3 linked regions of the Homo sapiens genome follow. The protein of the gene in region 1 interacts with the protein of each later gene in a pairwise test. Each region holds a gene or a part of one and is shown in the gene's direction. Other genes may lie near its edges.

Region 1 (7,136 bases):
GTATAGCCACAGTGATAGGTACTGGGGTTAGGACTTCAGTATGTCTATTTTGGGGACACAATTCAACCACAACCTACAGCAAAGGGTAGGTGGCCTGACTGAGGTGGGGTGGCCGATTTGATGGTAGATCCAGAAACAGAACTCACTTAGGCCTGATTCTGGAGACTTCCACAGCGTCAGTCTAATGTGCTGAGTGCCCCGCCTGGAGGAAAAATTCGGGCATCCTGCTCCCTGCGTGCTGGTTGAGCTGAGGGCTGCCCCAGGTCAGTGTCGCTTTGTGGCTAGTGTTGGGGGTCCAGACTTGAGGCGCCCTGGGCTGTAGGATGCCCACAGCCTCACCACTCCCATGAACTCCTCCAGCCCCGTTTCACCCCAGGCCACCCTCCCCGCAGCCTCCCCCTGCTCCCTTGCCGTCAGCGCTGCCCATTTCCAGGCTGGCTGCACAGTCTCACAGCCTGCAATGGCCTCTTGCGGTTCGGTGATTTCACAGGGACTTTGAACGTCCACCATTTAGGAAGGGTACTGGTCAGCTGAATCCGGCCTGAAGACCCAAATTCAACCACTTCCTTTTGAGGGAAACTTTCAAGGGAATATATGAAGAGGGTCTTGTTTATCAAACCCTTTCGGGTCAGAGAGATCCTGGCCTGGAACCTTGCGAGTCCCTCAAGCTCTTCCTGGCCCAGTTTCTGCCTGTAAAATGGGACAGCTGTACCTTCCATGGTTCTTGGGGAATGGAGTGAAATTATCTGTAGGGCCTAGCATAGTGCCTGGCACGTAGCAAGCTGCAAGTGATGGTTGCCACGGAGACACCAGCAGCCTTGCCTGGTGGGGCTGGAGTGTTCCCTACCCACGGTCCACCCTGTTCCTCCTTTGTAAGGCAGGACAAGGCAGGGCAGGGCAGCGGGCGGATGGGCATCCTTTCGGAAAAAATTCATAGAGCGCAGAGGGCCTTGGCTGTGGTGTTTGGCACTAACGAGCTTCCCTCTCTCCTAGATGGCGGACTGTGGCGGCCTCCCGCAGATCTCCCAGGTGAGTGCCATGTTGGCTTTTGCATTATACAGCTGTCGCTTCCCCCTGGGTGGAGTGCATGTGCCTCTGTGACACCTGTTCCCTCATTACCTTGCTGTGACATCGGATGACAGTTTGTGGACTGTTGGGAAAAGGTGCTATATAGGAGGACTCTGATTCCCTAGGAACCAACCCCTGTGGAGTAGGTGATACTGCGGTTCACAGAGGTTGGGGGATTTGCCAAGTAGACACACCTTGGTCATCATGGGTCAGAATCTGGGTATGTCTGCCCCAAAGACCACGGGCTTCTGCTGGAGTGAAGGGCCGCAAGGAGCTCCAGCCCAGAGCAGAGGGACATGGAGGAGATTAAGCCAAATTGTGTGTGTGTGCATGCATGTTTCTGTGTGTGCATGTGTACACGTCTGTGTGTGTGCATGTGTACACATGTCTGTGTGCATGTGTAAATGTGTGTGCACATGTACAAATAAACACATTGATCAACGTAATGTGTTTGCTACGTAACTGATCCCTTCAATTTCCCCTCCTATAAAGAATCTCACCAACCTAACAAGTAAACTTTTAATTTGTTGTCTTATAATTTTATATCCTGACAGTTTTGTGTTCCATCTTAAAATGAAATAGAGTTTTTTGTCATCTTTTTTATCCAAAACCTGCCCTGCCTCCTTTCTTCCTCCTTTTTTTCTTTCTCTACTTAAAATGAGAACAGATGTAACCCTGGTCATAATTAAAAGAATTTTCAGAGCTTCAGAGGAGTGCAACGAGCACAGGCTTCGAGGACACCAGCACAGGGGGGAGCAATTCCTGTGTGACACTGTCGTCCTCATGCCGTTGCAGGTTGGGTGTATGTTTACACAGGGTTTTCCCATCCTTGATTAAATTAGGTCCTTGCAATAGTCCTCAGAGGTGGGAAGAGCAAGCATTTTATCCCAGTGTCACAGAAGAGGAAACTGAGGCCAAAAGTTGAGAGAGATTGCCCATGATTACTGGAGCTAAAATTGGGCCCAAGTGTTCTCATTCCCAAGCGTGTATTCTTGGTTCTCTCCACCATCTCGAACACAGGCGTCCCTGTTCCCTGCAGCCCTGACCTGCTTCTCTTGTCTCTTTCTTCCACTGTCACACAAATTCCAGAGGGCAATTTGAGCATAGCCGCTCTTTTAAATGTCATTTGGCTCTTTGTGGAATCCTGGCAGGAGTTAGTGGAGAGCAGGGAGGGGGGTCAGCCCAGCCTCTACCAGTGCCCTCTCACTGCCTCAGGAGAATAGGACCCAGGGCACTGGATAGAACAGTTGGGATTAACTGAAGAACAGATACGCCTTGCACGTATGCCCTTGATATTTGAGCATTCACCTCCAAGTTTACATTAAATGAACTGAGAGAACTGGTAGAACTGGATGTGGTCTCAGCATTCCATACGCATTTCACTTAAAGTAGCCCAGTTAGTTGTTAATTAATTGGTTTGTTTACCCATCCAACGAACCATCCAACCATCATCCATTCATTCTTCTTCATATCCTTTCTTCCTTTTATTTGTCCTTCTTTTGTTCATATTTCTCTTTTTTTCTTCCTTTTGTCCATCAATTCTTTTTTTAATCCATCTTTCCTTCCTTCCTTCCTTCTCTTCCTTTCTTTCTTTTTTCCTTCCTTCTTTCCATCCATCCTTTTCTTTCCACCCATCCATCTATCCATCATCCCTTCTTTCAGCCAGCCTGCTATTGAGGCTGACAGTGATTTGCCTCAAGAACAAGTGTTTTAGGTTTGGAGAGCCCTGGGTTAATGTACAGGACCCACCACTTACTTGTTGTGGGACCCTGAGTGGATTTACCTGTCCAAATCTGTTCAGCTATGAAATGTATCTAAGGTAGCACTGACCTCGTGAGGGGTTGTCAGGAGTAAATGAATGAACGCAGCAAAGCCCCTTGCATTGGGAGTGGCTCATGATGCCGATGCAGTTATGTTCCACTTGCTGGGTTAGACATGTCCCTTTGTGGATGGTAATCTCCTCAGAAACACACAGAAATAGCTGTGATACTCTGCCCTGTATTACAGGTGAGGAAACTGGCTCAGACAGGTCATGTAACTTGTCCAAGTTCCACAGCTGTGGGGTGAATTTCCCATCATTGTCCCATACTCTTACTTTTGTGTTTTGTCCTGTCAACACGTGATGGCTTTTGTCTTGAGCCAAACTCTCAAATGAAGGTGACCACAGGCACAGCCCCCCATGGCCTCGGGTGATCTGGCTCCCCAGCAACTGACTGCATTTTCTCTCCTTGTCTCTCGCAGCCGGCCAAGCTCGCTGAGGCCTTCAAGTACTTCGTGCAGGGCATGGGATACAGTGAGTATGGCATTCCCCGTGTGCAGTGGGTCGGGGCATGTGTCGGAATTGGAAGTGCTCTGTCCTGAGCCAGGTTTGGATGAGCAATTCTGTGTCCCCCTGGCCAGCTTCAGCTTTCTGGGAGGAAACAGTTAGGTGTGTGGAGGGCATGTGGCAGCCTGGAGGATCTAGCCTCTCATTTATCAGTGAGGCTCATTTTTCCTCCTTTGTTGAATAGAAGTTGTTTCACACCAGGGATTTTGGGGGGTTTAGATGAGGACTGTCCCTTTAAGCACCAAGACAATGACCAACAGTGAAACAATAACATTTTTAAAAATTTTGATCACAAGTTTTAAGAGACCACTAGCTACAGTGATGATGAAGATGGTGTCGATGATGATGAAAGATTACTAACACATTATTTTATCTCACTGAACCATCACAGTACTCCTTTGACATATTCTTAGCCCATCTTATCAGTGATGAAGCTGAGGCTTCGGGGTTGTAAGCAGGGAGCAGAGGGCGGATCTGTGGAAATTCTTTGAAGACTGTGAAGCTCTGTGGAAGTGGCTAACAAAGTTGCTTACATTCAAGGTGGAGCATGCCATAGTCAAGTCATGAGCTTTGGGAAGTGGAGGATACATTGGAAGCATCATTCAGGAACTCACTCGTTCTTATTTTGCAGTTATAGTTTGTTAGACACATACAGCCTTTTTTCCAGAAGTGCTGTCCCAGGACTAGGACAGACCCTGGCGAGTTGTAACTCGGCTGAACAGCAGCCACACTCAGTGCTGTGGGCCTGTCAGCCATGGTCCGGCCCTGACATGACTAGTGGCTCTTCTGACCCTACTGCTTGGAACTATAATTCGTGTGTCCTCCCTTACTAGGAAGTTATTGAACTTCTGATCCCTTTTATCATTTCCTTAAACTGTTTGCCCATGTATAGTAAGAGTATGCTTGGTAAGCTGACTGCAGTCCTAGCATTGGCCTTAGCCATGATTAGCTCTAGCAAGGCGAGGCTGGCAGGTTTGATTTCCATGCCTCAGGCTCAGGCAGGATCCACATCCCCAGGTGCCCTCTTCCAACAGAAGCTATCTGCTAGTGGGGCTCCTGCCTTTCTAGCCTGCTTTCCCCGACGGAAGTTGCAGGCAAAGGTTGTCATTGGAGACAGCCATGGAGACAGCCGCGGGGCAGTCCTGCTTTACCCTGCACGGTGTGAATTGTGGCTCCCATTTGTCTTGGTCCCGCCAGGGTTTGGATTTCTGCTTTGAGAGTGTGTTCTGGAGAGAAAGGAAGTGAATGCTAGACCTCATCTTTCTCCCCAAATCGGCTTCTATTACCAGAAAGCTGAAGCCTCCTGCAGGTCTTGGGGGGAAAATAACAGGAAGAGCTATGGTCTCAAAGGCATCAGCCAAAGAGAAGGAAAGGAACCGGTCACTGGCCTTCTGCACACCACGGGGTGCTGGCTTGATGAACCCTTTGCACACCTGGCATCAGTGCTCACTGTACGCTTCTCATCCTGCTCAGTAGACATCCCAGATTTGTGGGTGAGAAGTAGGGGCTCAGAGAAATATGTGAGCTGCGGATGTGGCATTGACCCCAATTCTTTCTGAATTCAAAACTAGCTCTTTAAGACAATTCAGCAAGGATTAATTCTGTTTGGGAGTGCCTGACATCAAAAGCCCCTCCCTGTGCCTATCAAGGAGATAACATAAGCCCTGCATGCTTGGTGTGGATCAACTGCCCCTGTTTCTGATGTCTGACTCAGTGTGGCCTCCTAGCCATGATGCTTCAGTTGGGTGGAGTACTAGTTTCCTAAAGCTGCCGTAACAAATCTCCACAAACTGGGTGGCTGAAAACAATAGAAATCCATTCTCTCAAAGTTCAGGAGGCCTAAAGTCCAAAATCAAGGTGTGGGCAGGGCCTTGCTCCCTCCAACGCTGCTGTGGAAGAACCTTCCATGCCTCTTCCTGGCTTCTGGTGGCCCCAGCAATCCTTGGCTTTATGTGGCTTGTGGCTGCATCACTCCAATCTCAGCCTCTGTCTTTGCGTGGACTTCTCCCCTGCATATCCCTGTGTGCTGTTTCTATAAGGACATCACAGTCATTGGGTTTAGGGTTCCCTCTCAACCCAGGATGATTTCATCTCAAGATCCTTAACTAATTACATATGCAAAGACCCTATTTCCAAATAAGGTTCCCTTCTGAAGTTTCAGGTAGGTGTGAATCTTCCGGGACACTGTCCCACCCGGTACAGGTGGGCAGGATTGTTCCTCCTCATTCCACCCCATCAGCACGTGCTACCCCATCAGCATGTGCCACTTGCACGTGCCATGTGCAAGAGCATTTGAGGTCTCAGAGAAGATCCCAAAGAATAGACAGCGCCCTTGTTAGCACCTGGGCTGACAGGCTTCTTTGGGAGAGATGACAACGAATAGCCATGCCGGGAACTTGCCGTGTGGCCCCTCTCCCTTTCCCCACCTGTGATGTGCAGGGCCACTGACCCCAGGTGTCCTCCCTGCTCCAGTGATCATGGACAGCATGGGGTCATGGGCGTACACACAGGTGCTGATACCAGGGGTCAGTATTTAACATACTTGCTTTACAGATGGGAACAGGGAGGCTCAGGGGGACACTCTCAAAATTACACAGCTTTTAACAGGTGGCAGAATTGGGGTTCAGACCCAGATCTGGGTTCAAGTCACTCATGGTGTGATTGCGGCAGTTCCTTCCCGCATCTGGGCCTTGCCATCTCTCTCTCCGAGTGGACATGGAGAGGACGGGGGCCCAGCAGCTGGATGGCTGCAGGGATCAAGTCTTCTCTGGGGCTGGCACGTAGAAGAGCATGTGGCTGGTGGACGGGCATGCCTGGCTCCTCACCTGGCAGTCTCCTGCCCTCTAACCGGCTGTCTCTTGTTCCCCTAGTGCCCTCGGCTAGCATGACCCGCCTGATGCGGTCCCGCACAGCCTCTGGTTCCAGCGTCACTTCTCTGGATGGCACCCGCAGCCGCTCCCACACCAGCGAGGGCACCCGAAGCCGCTCCCACACCAGCGAGGGCACCCGCAGCCGCTCGCACACCAGCGAGGGGGCCCACCTGGACATCACCCCCAACTCGGGTGCTGCTGGGAACAGCGCCGGGCCCAAGTCCATGGAGGTCTCCTGCTAGGCGGCCTGCCCAGCTGCCGCCCCCGGACTCTGATCTCTGTAGTGGCCCCCTCCTCCCCGGCCCCTTTTCGCCCCCTGCCTGCCATACTGCGCCTAACTCGGTATTAATCCAAAGCTTATTTTGTAAGAGTGAGCTCTGGTGGAGACAAATGAGGTCTATTACGTGGGTGCCCTCTCCAAAGGCGGGGTGGCGGTGGACCAAAGGAAGGAAGCAAGCATCTCCGCATCGCATCCTCTTCCATTAACCAGTGGCCGGTTGCCACTCTCCTCCCCTCCCTCAGAGACACCAAACTGCCAAAAACAAGACGCGTAGCAGCACACACTTCACAAAGCCAAGCCTAGGCCGCCCTGAGCATCCTGGTTCAAACGGGTGCCTGGTCAGAAGGCCAGCCGCCCACTTCCCGTTTCCTCTTTAACTGAGGAGAAGCTGATCCAGTTTCCGGAAACAAAATCCTTTTCTCATTTGGGGAGGGGGGTAATAGTGACATGCAGGCACCTCTTTTAAACAGGCAAAACAGGAAGGGGGAAAAGGTGGGATTCATGTCGAGGCTAGAGGCATTTGGAACAACAAATCTACGTAGTTAACTTGAAGAAACCGATTTTTAAAGTTGGTGCATCTAGAAAGCTTTGA
Region 2 (7,613 bases), on another chromosome or scaffold:
AACCATTTATTTAAGTCTTCATTCACTGCCTTTAGAGCTTTAAAACTATATTTTATATATATTAGATGTTCCAGTTGGTTAGTTTCTAGGAATTCTCTAGATTGAGGTAAAACAAAAATGAGTATCGACATTGAACTTTGGGCAGATGGAAGCAGATAAAGTATTTTCAGTGCAGATTAATTGTGTAAAGCTTATTCCAGTCCCTCATTCTTTCCCAAATGGTTTTTGGTAGGGAAAAGCAAATTGGCTTTTGCACTTATCTCCCATTTTTTGGTCATTCTATCCTATCTTTTAGGGATTTTATTATCAAATTTATAGTTTGCAGAGAAGTGTGTTGGATATACAAAGAGTCAAAGTTATAGAATTTTGCCTTTCCTGAAGATTCTCACAATCAAATTCAGGACATCAGATATACACTGTGTCAACTTCATGAAACAGAAAATCCCAGTAACAGTGATTTAAACAAAATATAGATTTATTGGTCTCTCATGTAATTGGAAATCTGAAGGCAGGCAATCCAAGACTAGCATATTGACTCCACACTGTCTTCAGAATCCTGGGCTCCTTCATGTCTTCTACTTCTTTAAAATCAAGATGTGGGTCTCATCTTCATGTATACCAGAAGATTGCCAGTGCTCCAGCCATCATGACTAATTTCCAAGCAGAAACAAAAGACAGAGCAAAAGTCCAGTGCTGAGCCAGCTCCTCTTTAACTAGTTTTCCTGGTAGCTCCCAGTGATGTCTGCTCCTATCATTGCCCATAACAGCATCATATGATTGCCACCAACTACAAGGGAGCTGACAGATGTAACATTTTAGCTAGGCATATTGCTACTCTTAATAAAATCAAAGATCTGTTTGTAAGTAGAGAGAGTGGATATCGGCCAGGCAAATGATAGTCTCTACCACTCAGTGTACAAAGTAAAAGGGAAAACATAAAGTAGAGTTTTGTTCAGGCTAAGACCATGTGTCCAAGAATGTGAGGTTAATGCATGGCCTTGATGGTTAAGTTGGATTCAGATAAATGGTGGTGAGAAGAGGGGACATTTTAAGACCAGTAAGGGCTTGATCACAGATGAGGTAAAGGTCCTCCTAGCAGGTGTAAAGGAGAATGGTGGTAGGGAGGGAGGGACTTCCTCTGTGCTTAGAATGTCTTTCTGGGAGTGTGAGGATATGTAGAAATGCAAGGATAGATTGGTTATCAGCTCTGTTTACCAATTACCGTTGTCCTCATTAAATCTTCAATAACAACTAACGTTTATTAAAACCAAGTATGTACCAAAGGGTTTGCTAGGTGTTTTAACGTATGTTGTATCTAATCCTTACAATAACCCCATTTTGGGGATAAGAAAACTGATCTGTCACAGGTTGAATACTTGATCAAGCTCATGCGTCTTTTAAATTTAAGATATTCTGACTTGAATGTGTTTTACACCAGACTCCATGATTTTTTTCCCACAATGTCACAATGTTAAGTTAATTTATTAACTTTGCTTGGGATTGGGGGTGAAGGTGGGTGAGTTAAACCGGTATTCCTTGATATTTTCTAAATTCTAAACTTTAGGGGAACTTTACAAACTCTTCAACTAACTAGCAGTGTGATCATAGACAAGGTACTTATCCTCTCTGGATTTGAATTTGTTTACTTATTACTCAGATACAAAACCAGACAGATACTATAAGAGAGGAAGCTTTCAGTCCAACATCCTTCATCAACACAGACACAAAAATTCTAAAAAAATGTAATCCATGATACATAGAACATAATCCAACAATACATGAAACAAATAATAAAACTGACAAAGCAGGCTTTATTGAAGAAATACTAAGTTGGTTTAACGTTTGAAAATCAAGTAACAAACTACAAAAAGAAAATAGGAAAAAGGTATGATTATATCAGTAGCTGCAGAAAAGCATTTGACAAAAATCCAACATCCCTTCCTGATAAAAACTCTCAGTAGACTACAAATAGAAATTTCCTTAATCTGATAGAAAATTTATGAAAAACTTATAGCTAATATCATACTTAATGGTAAAAGGCTGAATACTTTTCCTCTAAGATCAGGAACAAGACAAGGATGTTCACTCTCAACATTTCTATTCAACACTGCGCAGGCTCTAACCAGTGCAATAAGGCAAGAAAAAGAAATCAAAGACATCTGTATTAAAAAGAAAGAGTAAAACTCTTTCTACACAGATGACATGATTTTTCTATGTAGAAAATCTGATAAAATCCATAAAATGTTACTAGAACTAAGAAATGAGTTTAGAAAGATTACAGAATACAAGATCAATATACAAAATCTACATACTAGCAATCAGAAATTGAAATTGATAAAACAATACCACAGCATCAAAAATATGAAATGCTTTAGGATGAATCTATCAAAAGATGTGCAAAACCTATACAGTGAAAACTACAAAACACTACTAGTAGGTGTTAAGGAAGACCTAAATAAATAGATAGGCATATCTTTATTCATGGGTCAAAAGATTCAATATTGTTATGATATTAATTTCCCCCAAACTTATGGATAGAATCAATGCAATCCCAATCAAAACTTAAGTAAGATCATGTGTAGAAATTGACAGACTGAATCTAAAATTTATGTTGAAATACAAAAGACCTAAAATAGCCCAAACAACCTTAAAAAAGAACAGAGGTACAGTACCAATGCTAGCTGGTTGCAAGTCCAGTCATCAGGATATTGTAATATTGATGTAAAAATAGACAAATTAATTAATGGGACAAAATAGGAAGTCCAGAAATAGACACAACACATTGATAGGAAACTGATTTTTGACAGATTCAAAAACAGTTCAGTGGAGAAAGAGTAGTCTTTTAAAAATTGGTGCTAGGAGCCAGGCCTGGTGGCTCACGCCTGTAATCCCAGCACTTTGGGAGGCCGAGGCAGGCAGATTACCTGAGATCAGGAGTTCAAGACCAGACTGGCCAACATGGTGAAACCCCGTCTCTACTAAAAATACAAAAATTAGCCAGACGTGGTGGCACACGCCTGTAATCCCAGCTACTCAGGAGGCTGAGGCAGAAGAATTGCTTGAGCCTGGAAGATGGAAGTTGCAGTGAGCCAAGATCGTGCCACTGCACTCCAGCCTGGCCGACAGAGACTCTGTCTCAATCAATCAATCAATCAATCAATAAAAATGGTGCTGGAACAACTGGATATAGATATGCAAAAAACAAAACAGATAAACAAAACAAAACAAAAATTTTGGCCATATATAAAAATTCTAAATCGGTCAGAGACCTAAATGTAAAACCTAGAACTATAAAAATTTTAGAACAAAACATAGGAGAGAATCTTTGTGATCTTGGATTAGGCAAAGATTTCTTAAATATGATACCAAAAAAAGAACAATCCATTAACAAATTGATAAATTGGGCTTCATCAAAATTAAAAACTGCTCTTCCCAAGACAATATTAGGAGACAGAAAAGACAAACAAGAGACTGGGAAAAAAAATCTTTGTAAAGCATATGTTTGATAAAAGATTTGCATCCAAAATATATAAAGTGTTCTAAGCTCAATAATGAAACAACTCAACATTAAATGGGCAAAAGATCTGAACGGACACTTCACCAAGGAAAATACACTCGCTGCAAATACGCACATGAAAAGATGCTTAACATCATTAACGATTAGAGAATGCATAATAAAGCCACAATGAGCTACCACTACACAGAACCGGAACATCTACAGTTAAAATCTCTGGACTTTCAAGTGTTGGCAAGGATGAAGAACAACTGGAACTCGCATAGACTGCTAGTGGGAAGGTAAAGAAAAAAACCACTTGGGAAAACAGTATAGTAGTTTCTTAAATGGTTACACCTACCTTACGACCTGGGCATTCCACTTCCAGGTATTTACCCCAGAGAGGAAAAACCGTATATGTCTGTACAAAGATTTGCACAGGGATGTTCCTAGCAGCTGTAGTTCTAATCAGGAAAAATTGAAAGCAGGCTAAATCAAGTGCTGACTAAACACACGGTGGTATATCCATAAATGGAATACTGCTCAGGAAGCAATGAATGATTGTTCCATGCAAAAACACGCAGGCATGTCAAAGTAACTATGTTGAGTGAAAGAAGCCAGACAAAATCAAGTACATATGGGATGATTCCATTTATGGACGACTCTAGAAAATGCAAACTAAAACAGATCAGTGTTTGGGCTGCGGATGAGTGGAGTTGGGATAGGTGGAGGGGGGCAGGGCGAGGGAGGAGCAGGAGTGGGAGGAGCTGGGAGATGCAGAGATGGGTTGGGGAGGGTCTCATGGAAGGGAAGGGAGAGAGGAAGGGGGAGAGGAAGGGGGAGGAAAGGCAAGGGGAAAAGGAGAGGAAGAGGGAGGGGGAGAGAGAGGCAGAGTGGGAGGAAAGAGGGGCGGGGACCTGGGAGGGCCCAGGGCACATAGTGGGAGGAGCAGGTGGGAAGGAGGGAAGGAGGGAGGGGCAGGGGAGGGAGAAGAGGGGGAGGGAGACGAGGGGACTGGCGGTGTGGGCGGAGCGTGGGGAGGGAGGCCGACTAGCGCAGGCGGACGGGAGAGAATGGGGGAGGGGTGGGATGGGAGCAGGGGCAGAGACGGGCAGAGGGCAGAGGGCGGAGCGGCGCCGGAGCGGGCGTCATGGCGCGGCTCCTCTGGTTGCTCCGGGGCCTGACCCTCGGAACTGCGCCTCGGCGGGCGGTGCGGGGCCAAGCGGGCGGCGGCGGGCCCGGCACCGGGCCGGGACTGGGGGAGGCAGGTAGGACGCGGGTCCCGCAGGCCCCGCCGCCGCCTACGGCTTTCGGCTTCATTTCACCGGCTGCACCCGGGAGCCTAGGGCCGGTCCAGGCCGGGCGCTGCCCTCCTACTAAGCCCTCCTCGGCGCGCCCCTCCCCCCCCCCAGCCCGAGGATCTGGGACAGTGGATTGTAAACTTGGTGGCGGCAGGGTGGGGACTGACCCCTGTGAGAATCCGAGGAAATGAACAAATGATCCCCCTAAATGTGCGCATAATTTTTTTTTTCTTGGCTCGGGGAGTGGGGGCATAAGTGGGGCTCGGGGGCCTCTGACCCCTATCGGGGACTCCAGGCGAAGGCCCGGGGCCTGGGCTGTAGCAGCCCGGCCCGCGCGCCCCTGCGAAGGCCCCTAGTATTTTGCATTGCAGCCCTCTTCGTAGTTCCGCGGGCTTCCTTCCAGCATCTGAGAAGCAGGCAGTTCAGACTTGGGGTTCCTGTGAGTGTTTCCTGCCCTGCTGACTTCCCATAAATGTGTCTAAGAGCCAGGGAGACTGGGTTGATCATTTGTTCCTTCTTTAAGGTGACAGCCATTGTTAATGACTGAGACAGAGACCAGGGCGAGCCTGTGTGTGTGTGTCTCTCTCTCTCTCTGTGTGTGTGTGTGTGTGTGTTTCTGCTAAATACTTTTGGATCCTCTCTTGGATCTGGGTACCTGCACATTTCACCAAGCAGGAAGGAGTCACCTCGGGAGACCTGTGCCAGCTACCCCTGTATTTCAGTTCTATTTCAGGGTAACTTAGTGCCCCAGGGGATTGGCTTCCTGGGCGGTTGCCAGACTGACCCACTCTGAATCCAATTTTATATGTGTTCATTGAAGACATTCAGAGATACCCAACTGATGAAAATGTACCAACTCATTCTGAGCTCTTTTTAGCCCCTGAAGTTTTCGAAATGCAATATTGAAAGAATACGTAACTAAATAAAAGCGTTGGCGTTGTGGAATGTTAGCTCATCCAACTTGACTTCCAGCTATGGCCTTTCTAATCACTGGTGTCTCTAGTCAGTCTGATGACATTTGCTGTGAGCCTACTGTGTGCCAAGCATTGTATTGCTGAGAACCACAGGTGATAGAAACAGGTCACAGTTACCGACGAGCTCTCTATAACCCCTTGAAAAAGGATGGTGGTTTTAGCGGTAACTACTTCATGGCTGTAATTGCTGCTGTCAGAAGCAGCCTAATGAATTGCCCTGGGATCTGAAGTTCTCCAGCAACAATAAAATTTGGCCAGCCACCAGTAGGTAACAGGAGCTGTGTACCTTATCAGACACCCCTCCTGGGAATCTATTCGAAGGAAATAGTTCAAAAGAAGAACAAAGAGATATATGCAAAGATGCTTTAAGCACTAGTCTCTTACAAAATGGAAACTGGCTGTAACCCAAATCAGTTAAGAAATACTTACGTAAATCATGAAAATTCAATCCAACAAACTGTTAGGCAGCCATTAAAAATGATAAACGGAGTATTTCTGTGGTGAAGGGCTTGGGTATGAATAGATGCAGATTTTGAGTCTTGGCTCTCGGTTACTTCCTGGCTCTGTGTCTGAGCTCAGGCTGCTATTGCAAAACACCGTGGACTGGGTGGCTTCAACAACATTTTCTCACAGTTCTGGAGGCTGGGAAGTCCAAGATCAAGGTGGGAACAGATTTGGTTCCTGATGCAGACCTGCTTCCTGGCTTGCAGTTGACTGCCTTCTCACTCTGCCTTCAGGTGACTGTCTCAGGAAGGACCACTAATCCCTCAAGAGAGCCTCACCTTTATGATCTAATCTAAAACTAATAACCTCCCAAGCCCCACCTCCACATTCCATCTCATTGGGAGTTAGGGCTTTAGCATATGGGAGTGGGGAGAGGAGCAGGGAGAACATATAATATTCAGTTTGTAACAATGTCTTTGGACATGTTTCTTGAATTTGGAAAGTTTAAACTTCAGATTTTTTTTCCTTCTGTCAAATAAGGATAATGATAATGGTAGGGTTGTTGTAAAGAATAACTTTTTAATTAAATATTTTGTTACAATGCTTGACACTTAGGCACACAATAAATGTTAGTTATGATTACATAAATAAGTGGAAAGGACAAAAATGTAGCTACATTTAACTTACATCATGGGCTTCGGGAGTGTTGAGAGAGAGGGAGACATTGGGAGGGGGGAAATGAGAAGATATTGAAATGACAGTATTTTTTTCCAGTGCTGCAATTTCTCATATGCTTAGAGTGATTTTTTTTAATCCAGATTGACAAAGAGCAAACTGAAAAAGGAAAGTAAGAAATATTCTGGAGCAAAAAATCTGTTGCTTCAGGAAAATATTCTTTCTAGAGATGACTATGCTAGGAAACTGTCCTGGGCATAGGGTTAAAATAGTCCAGGCACTGGTGGGAGAGACTAGTTCTGCAGATCAGAATGGGCTGGGGATTCTTTTAATACCAGTTTCTAAAGAGTTCCATTAGATTCAACACATTATTTATCAAAATGGAGTGGGCTTATGTGTGACAATTGGCAGTATAGCAACTGTGGCCAGGAAGGTTAGCAAAACCCGAAGGAGGCACCCAGTAGGTGACCATAGGACCAAGAGTGGATTTCCTTAGGGATGAAAAAATCGAGGCCCACCCCGTAGAACTTCTGACCAACAAAATATATGGCCTGTGCAAATCACAGCACACAGAGAGAAGGGAACTCCAAGGAATTTGAGTTTATTAAGGCATAATTCAAAGTAAAGCTGTGTAGTTATCTCATGCAATAGCAGCAACCGATAAATGTTTTCATAGTGAAGATAGCAAGAGAATGTAGAGGGAATCTGGAAAATGTGTAGCCCCCA
Region 3 (6,886 bases), on another chromosome or scaffold:
GCCTCACGAGTAGCTGGGATTACAGGCGTGCACCACCACACCTGGCTAATTTTTTGTATTTTTAGTAGAGACGGGTTTTCACCATGGCCAGGCTGGTCTTGAACTTCTGACCTCAGGTGATCCGCCTGCCTTGACCTCCCAGAGTGCTGGGATTACAGGCGTGAGCCATGGTGCCTGGCCGATTAAGTGCAATCTTAAAACTAATCTGTTTGCATGAGAATCTTCTATCCAGAGACTAAGTATACTCAGAGAAAACAACATATAATAGATTTAGACCAATGATTCTCACTTGGAGGGCAGTTTTACCCCCAGAGAACATTTGCCATGTCTAGAGACATTTTTGTTTATCACAACTAGGAAAGGAAGCTGTATTGGATTTAGTGAGTGTAGGTCAGGGATGTTGCTGAATATTCTACATTATAGAGGACAGCCCTTCCAAAATAAAGAATTACTCAGCCAAATATGTCAGTAGTGCTGAGGTTGACCTTTATCCAGACTGTAGTGGAGTTCTTGTGACTAAGCAGTATAATATAATGAATAAGAGAATGGACTCTGAAGCCAGACTGCCTGAATTTGCATCCCAGCTCTGCCAATTCCCAGCTGATACCTTTGGTTTCTACTCTTTCTGTGCTTCTCTAAAATAGTACTGAAAACAATAACCATACCTACTTCATATGATTATTGTGAGGATAGATGAGTTAATACATGTAAATCTTTTTTTTTTTTTTTTTTGAGATGGAGTTTTGCTCTTTTTGCCCAGGCTGGAGTGCAATGGCGTGATCTCAACTCACTGCAACCTCTGTCTCCCGGGTTCAAGCGATTCTCCTGCCTCACCCTCCTGGGTAGCTGGGATTACAGGCACCCGCCATCATGCCTGGCTAATTTTTGTATTTTTAGTAGAGACAGGGTTTCACTGTGTTGGCCAGGCTGGTCTTGAACTCCTGACCTCAGGTGATCCGCCCACCTCAGCCTCCCAAAGTGCTGGGATTACAGGTATGAGCCACCGTGCCCAGCCAAATACATGTAAATCTTTAGTGCCTAGAATGTAGTAAACAGTCAATAAATGTTAACATTGTTAGGATCTAAACTGTTAACTTCAAAGATATCCACTCCTGGTACCTTTGTGATTGTGGGTTAGCCCAGGAAATCCCCAAATGTACATACTTACTGGTCTACTGAAGCTGAGAATATATTTGCTTTATCTTTAGCCCTATTATGAGTACTCCCATTTTAATGGCTTTTAGTCCATAAGCATATTGTCAGTCACTTTCTTTCACACTTCTATAATTTTTTTCCCCAGTGTTTAGGGCAACACCGTAGCTTCCATCTTTTGTGTTCTAGTACATTAAGATAATGCATTAGGATGTGTATGTGTACAGTATATATGTACGTAAACACACAGGATTGTATTAAACATACTAATTTTTAAAACCAAAACAAAAAACTCTGACCTTATTTTCTAGGCAATTCGAAGTTTTCAAGTAGCCCTTCACATCTATCCAATGAACCCTGAAATATGGAAAGAAGACCTCTCTTGGGCAAGAACGCTCCAGGAGCAGCAGAAGGTAGCACAGAGGATTAAAAAAAGTGAAGCACCAGCTGAAGTAACACACTTTTCACCAAAGTCAATTCCAGACTATGACTTTGAAAGTGATGAGATTGTTGCTGTTTGTGCAGCTATTGCTGAGAAAGAGAAGACAGTTTCAGCAAATAAAACAATGGTTATTGTGTCTGCTTCTGGGGCCATAGAGACTGTAACTGAAAAGGAGGATGGTGCTACACCACCAGATGGCTCTGTTTTTATCAAAGCCCGATGAAGCAGTATGCATAGGATTATTTGAATCTGTCTTTTTGATTGCCTCTTGAAGTTTTGACATAGAGACATTTACTCTGGAGATAGATAGGAGAACGCCTGGTTGTAAAATATGTTTTTCAGATGAGGCATATAAAAACTAAAATGGCAGGATTATTGTATAGTGTTTGGAATATGCTTTGATAAGTTATGATTTATATTTCTCAAGGTTAAAATTCTGAGTAAAATGGTCTTTGATTAATAAACTTAGTTTAATCTGAATATGTAAATGAATACATTTTAAAGACAAAACTTGAAAAATGTATTCTTGAATAGTGAATAATTTGATCAATGTTACTGAAATGCTGTCTCAACTTTTGTTTTATGATAAAGGAAGTGTGTGATTTCCCTCCCTCTGAGAAATATACTGCGCTTAATATTTGCTGTCTTTTTCTTGCTTCATTAGAGTAAGTCTGTCAGAAAGCTTGAATATTTTTGACATTCATTTTGATTCAAAGTTGTCATTTGGTTATATGTGGAATCTTTGAAAGTTTGGCTGAAAATGCACACAAATGTGTACATTCTGAACATTTTCTGAAGTTTCTCTTAATTCTGATTTGTGTTTCTGTTTTGACTTTGAAGTTGTAACAATGATAGTTGTCTCCTTCAGTATTTGGTAAAAGTGTAAAGTATTGATAAATATGAGAATGATGGTTTTATTTTTTAATTGTTACAGTAAGTAATCCTTACCACAAATGAGTCATTTTTAAAATATGCATTTTTAAATGAATGGCTTTTACAGATAGGTTAATGACAATTGTACTGCTATATTATCCCAGTCAAAACCAATACTTTCTTTTCTTTATTTTACAAAGCTTTAAAAACCCTGGAAACAACTTACTTCTTGCTTGTGTCTTTCCATTTGATGACTGGGAATTACTTTTCTAGATAACTTTTTTTGAAACTACTCAGTGAAATGAAAAATAATTACAATTTTAAATAGCTAATTATATCTTTCTAAAAATAAAAAAGTAGGGCTGTTATTAGAGTGCCAATGAATAAATAACTTAAGCACAAAATACATAGAAATTGGAATGTGATTTATAGTACAATCTCATGAGTATGAAAAGGCTATATTAAAAAAAATTTTATTGAAAGTCCACAGTCATATTCACAAACCAATACTGTCATTGCTAATCTGAACTATTATTTTTATACTATATATTGTAGTACAATAATATAGAACTGTTGGGTTCTGTTACTTCTGACACTCAGGAAGATACTATTGGTGTATTAATTTTATCTTTGTTAGAGATGAAAGTAGCCCACTTTATGTTAAAGATCTTACTACTGTTGGAGCTTATAAGTAATGATCTACATTTTTTATGAAGATGGTTTTTAAAACTTTTGTTTTATTGGAATGCATATCTCTTTTCAGGGTTGGAGAAATTAGCACTTGCCTTGAAAAGAATATTCTTTCCTTAAGTTATATCATCAGAAAATTAGCTCTGGTTAGAGAGGTTAGTTTCAGAGTGCTCCAAAAAATATGTTAATTATTTTATTTTGTTTAATAAAGAACATTCTCAAAACGTAAATAGGTATCTAGAGAAGTGAGTACTCAACATTTGGTATATTGTTTTGAGTAATGGATGTTTGTTTTTTGTGTAATTTGTGAATAAATAGTTTTTTTCTGCATTTTGAAGATTTTCCTATTATTTTATGTTGTTAGCTTTTGAAAAATTAGATTGATCTACTTAGTGTCTTTCTTATATGAACTTAATATATTTAAAGTACCTTGCATGGTGCCTCACACATGAAGTAATGCCAGCTATTTCAGTAAATGCTAGCTATTTCTATGAAGAACTTGAGTTAGTTTGGAGATATTTAACCTCAATTTCCTCTGATTTTAAAAAAGGAGAACTTTTTTTGTAATCCTTTCCTTATCTGAAAGTAAGAAGTCTCTGATTCCAGTATTATAGGAGAGATAGTGGGATTTTTCTTGACAGGGTCTATAGCTCAAGTCCCAAAGAGGCAAGACTCAGGATGGAATGCATGTGGCCACTAGGCCCTGTTATAAGAACCTAGTGTTTCCTCTGTACTGGCATGGTAGGCCAAGTTAGTCTCTTTCTTACCCAGATATAAGACATAAAATAGTTTAGACATAAGACAGAGGAGAAAAAGAAACAGTAAGTTATGGAGAAGGAAGGCAGCTCATTTCTGCAGGCCCCTCAAAATGCTTATTTTAGCTCATACTCTTCTATGCGTGAAGAGAAAAATGCACCCATTATTTTACAAGGATGTGAATACTGATATACAAACATAGACTAAGCTTGTTAATTTTAATAACAAATCTTTATGAATCTGAAGAGAATTGATGTTCATGATAATGATATAGATGTTTAATATACTTTCTGAAATAACACTGTTTACTGTTCAAGTTATATTGACTATAATTTACATTATTCTTGTTTGAGAATTGTATGGCATAGACACTCATTAGTCAGAGTGTCTAGACATCCAGACCATGCCTGATAACACAAGAATCATATATCATTCTCTAGAAAACAGGCTGTTTGGTTATAGAGTATTTATCTTAAATATATTAACAGACACTACATAAACATTGAAAAGCCATGCAAGTTATAGCTCACAGGAGCCAGATCTACTGCAACTGGGGCCTACATACAAAATTTTATGGCAGTGGTTTCAGTATGACAATCTTTTGAATTGATGCCGTATGGTAAAACTATAAAGATTTTTTAAAAGCTCTGTCTCAGCTAGAATTTTTAAGATTATAACTGAACAGTATAGCCCTTTTAGTTGTTTGAAAATTACATAATGATTCAAAAGCTTGTTTCACTGCCTTTCCCAGCACTAAGAAAATTAACAATCATTTCTTTTAATTTCCTTGAATCAGAGCCATTCTAAAGTGACTCTGGACCAGCAATTCTGAGCTATGATTTCATGATACATGTATTAATATCTAAATGAGTTGTGAGTTGACATAAGAACCATAGTTCCATAATAATTATCTTCAAATCAATGGATATCTTAAATGTGTTTTTTTCTTCCTTAGAGATTATTATTAAACTGATGTATTTGATAATAAAGAATTTTAGGACTGAGAAAGTTAAGTTTTTCTTACCAATAATAAGATATTGAAATATATAAATTATAAAACAGAAATAAAATGAAATAAAGGAGGTTATCCCTAAAGTCATTTACCTTAGTCACTTGCAATTAAATATGGTTACTTCGGAAGAAGAAGTGTGGCCCTAAAGCTACTGTAACATGAATCATGCCCTAATGTGCACTATATATGAACTACTTTGGTCAGAAGGCAGCGGCGGGTAAGGATGGCTTCCTCTCACAGTGCTTCTTAGGCTATCCATTTACCAAGGAATTCTAATCTCTTTCTCTCACTTCACCAGGAAAGGAGGGAGTTTAAGATATAGAACTGGGCATGCTAGCCTCTTTTTTCCCTTTTGTGGATTTGTCATAACTGCAGAGAACCGATGTTGTGGTCTCTTGCCAGCTACATTGTGAACCTTGCAGTGAAAGTTCTTTGCCTCTGCAAAGGGAGATTTGTGCTTGTGCAGAACTGCCCATGCCTTAGTAAGCAGGTCTGTCTAATTCTAAGTTCAATATCTGGTGGCTATTGTTGGCATAAACTTAAAGTACATCCTCTAACCTAGCCTTTTTCAGCAGTAAACTTAAAATATTGAATCTCCATCTGTCTGTGTCTCAAGTGGTTCAGAGGTCAGGAGAGGAGAGGGACATTATTTTATGACTCCCTCAAACTTTAACAAAGACTAGTGCAGATTATATTTCGAAGTAAGCATGAGATATATTAAAAACCACATGTGGGAATTCTTTCCTAATTTTAGAGGTTTTTTTTAAATAATGGAAATTCTATTGAAATTGAGTAGTGTTAATTACAAGGCAACAGGTAAACATTTGTTCAGGATATTTAAAAGGTCTGCTGAGTTGGAATTGTGACAGACCACATTGTTGACTCTAGATTGAATTGGAAGGGAAGAATGTGAAATGAATTAGGATATCCTCTGTTCACCTCTATTAACTTTCTTAAATGAGTATAACTTAGAAATAATAAAATGCAAGTATTTTAACGTTATAGTTGGGAGAGTTTTGACAAATGTAAACACCCACTTCACCACCACTACCATCCTGATATAGTGTGTGTCCATCACCCAAAAAGTTCTCTAAAGCCCTTTTGCAGTTGGTTCCCCTCCACCTGAACAGCCATCCCTAGTCAACTACTTTTCTGCTTTCTGTGGCTATACGTTAGATTTGACTTCAGAATTCTAGAGTTTGAAATAAATAGGCCATATAATATGCACTCTTTTTGTGTCTGACTTTTTTTTTGCTTAACATGATGCTTTTGAAACCCATCCATGTTGAGATTCATCCATGTTATCATGTGTATCAATAATAAGTTCCTTTTTATTGCTGAATAGTATTCTAGTATATAGATATACCACAATTTGTTTAGCTGTTCACCTATTGATGGACATTTAGGTTGTTTCAAGTTTTGATCTATTATGAATAAAGCTGCTATATATATAAATCACAATTCTATGTGTGGACATATGTGTTCATTTCTCTTATGTAAATACCTAGGGATGGAATTGCTGAGTCTTATGACCAGTTTATGCACAACTTTAAAGGAAACTGCCAAACTTTTCCAAATTATCTGTACCATTTGGGATTTCTGCTAGCAATGTATTAAATTAATTTCAGTTTCTCCATATCCTTGTCAATGATTGATATTGTCAGTCTTTTAAATTTTAGACACTTTAGTGGATATGTAGTAGTATTTCATTGTGGTTTTAATATGCATTTCCCTAATAATGTTGAGCATCTTTTCATAGGCTTATCTGACATTTCTCTTTTTTGGAAAGTAACTTTTCAAATATTTTGCCCATTTTTGATTTAAGTCATCTTCTTATTGAGTTGTAAGAGTTTTCCTTTCTACTGGATAGAAGTCCTTCATGAGCTGTAAGTATTGTGTATATTATCTTCCTATCTGCAGCTTGCTTGTTTGTTTTCTATATATATATATACATATTTTTA

The links. Proteins that work in one complex are often made in the same cells at the same time.
Region 2: the proteins of NDRG1 (region 1) and MSRB2 interact in binary tests that used the Homo sapiens proteins (3 or more experiments, as listed by UniProt).
Region 3: the proteins of NDRG1 (region 1) and TTC33 interact in binary tests that used the Homo sapiens proteins (3 or more experiments, as listed by UniProt).

The regions. Positions count from the first base shown.
Region 1 is NC_000008.11:133,238,248-133,245,383, reverse strand, and holds part of NDRG1 (protein NDRG1), read left to right. Parts: intron 1-993; coding exon 994-1,029; intron 1,030-3,309; coding exon 3,310-3,361; intron 3,362-6,264; coding exon 6,265-6,506; 3' UTR 6,507-7,136. UniProt on the Homo sapiens protein: Stress-responsive protein involved in hormone responses, cell growth, and differentiation. Acts as a tumor suppressor in many cell types. Necessary but not sufficient for p53/TP53-mediated caspase activation and apoptosis.
Region 2 is NC_000010.11:23,090,966-23,098,578, forward strand, and holds the start of MSRB2 (methionine-R-sulfoxide reductase B2, mitochondrial precursor), read left to right. Parts: upstream 1-4,613; 5' UTR 4,614-4,643; coding exon 4,644-4,761; intron 4,762-7,613. UniProt on the Homo sapiens protein: Methionine-sulfoxide reductase that specifically reduces methionine (R)-sulfoxide back to methionine.
Region 3 is NC_000005.10:40,711,076-40,717,961, reverse strand, and holds the end of TTC33 (tetratricopeptide repeat protein 33), read left to right. Parts: intron 1-1,463; coding exon 1,464-1,817; 3' UTR 1,818-6,386; downstream 6,387-6,886.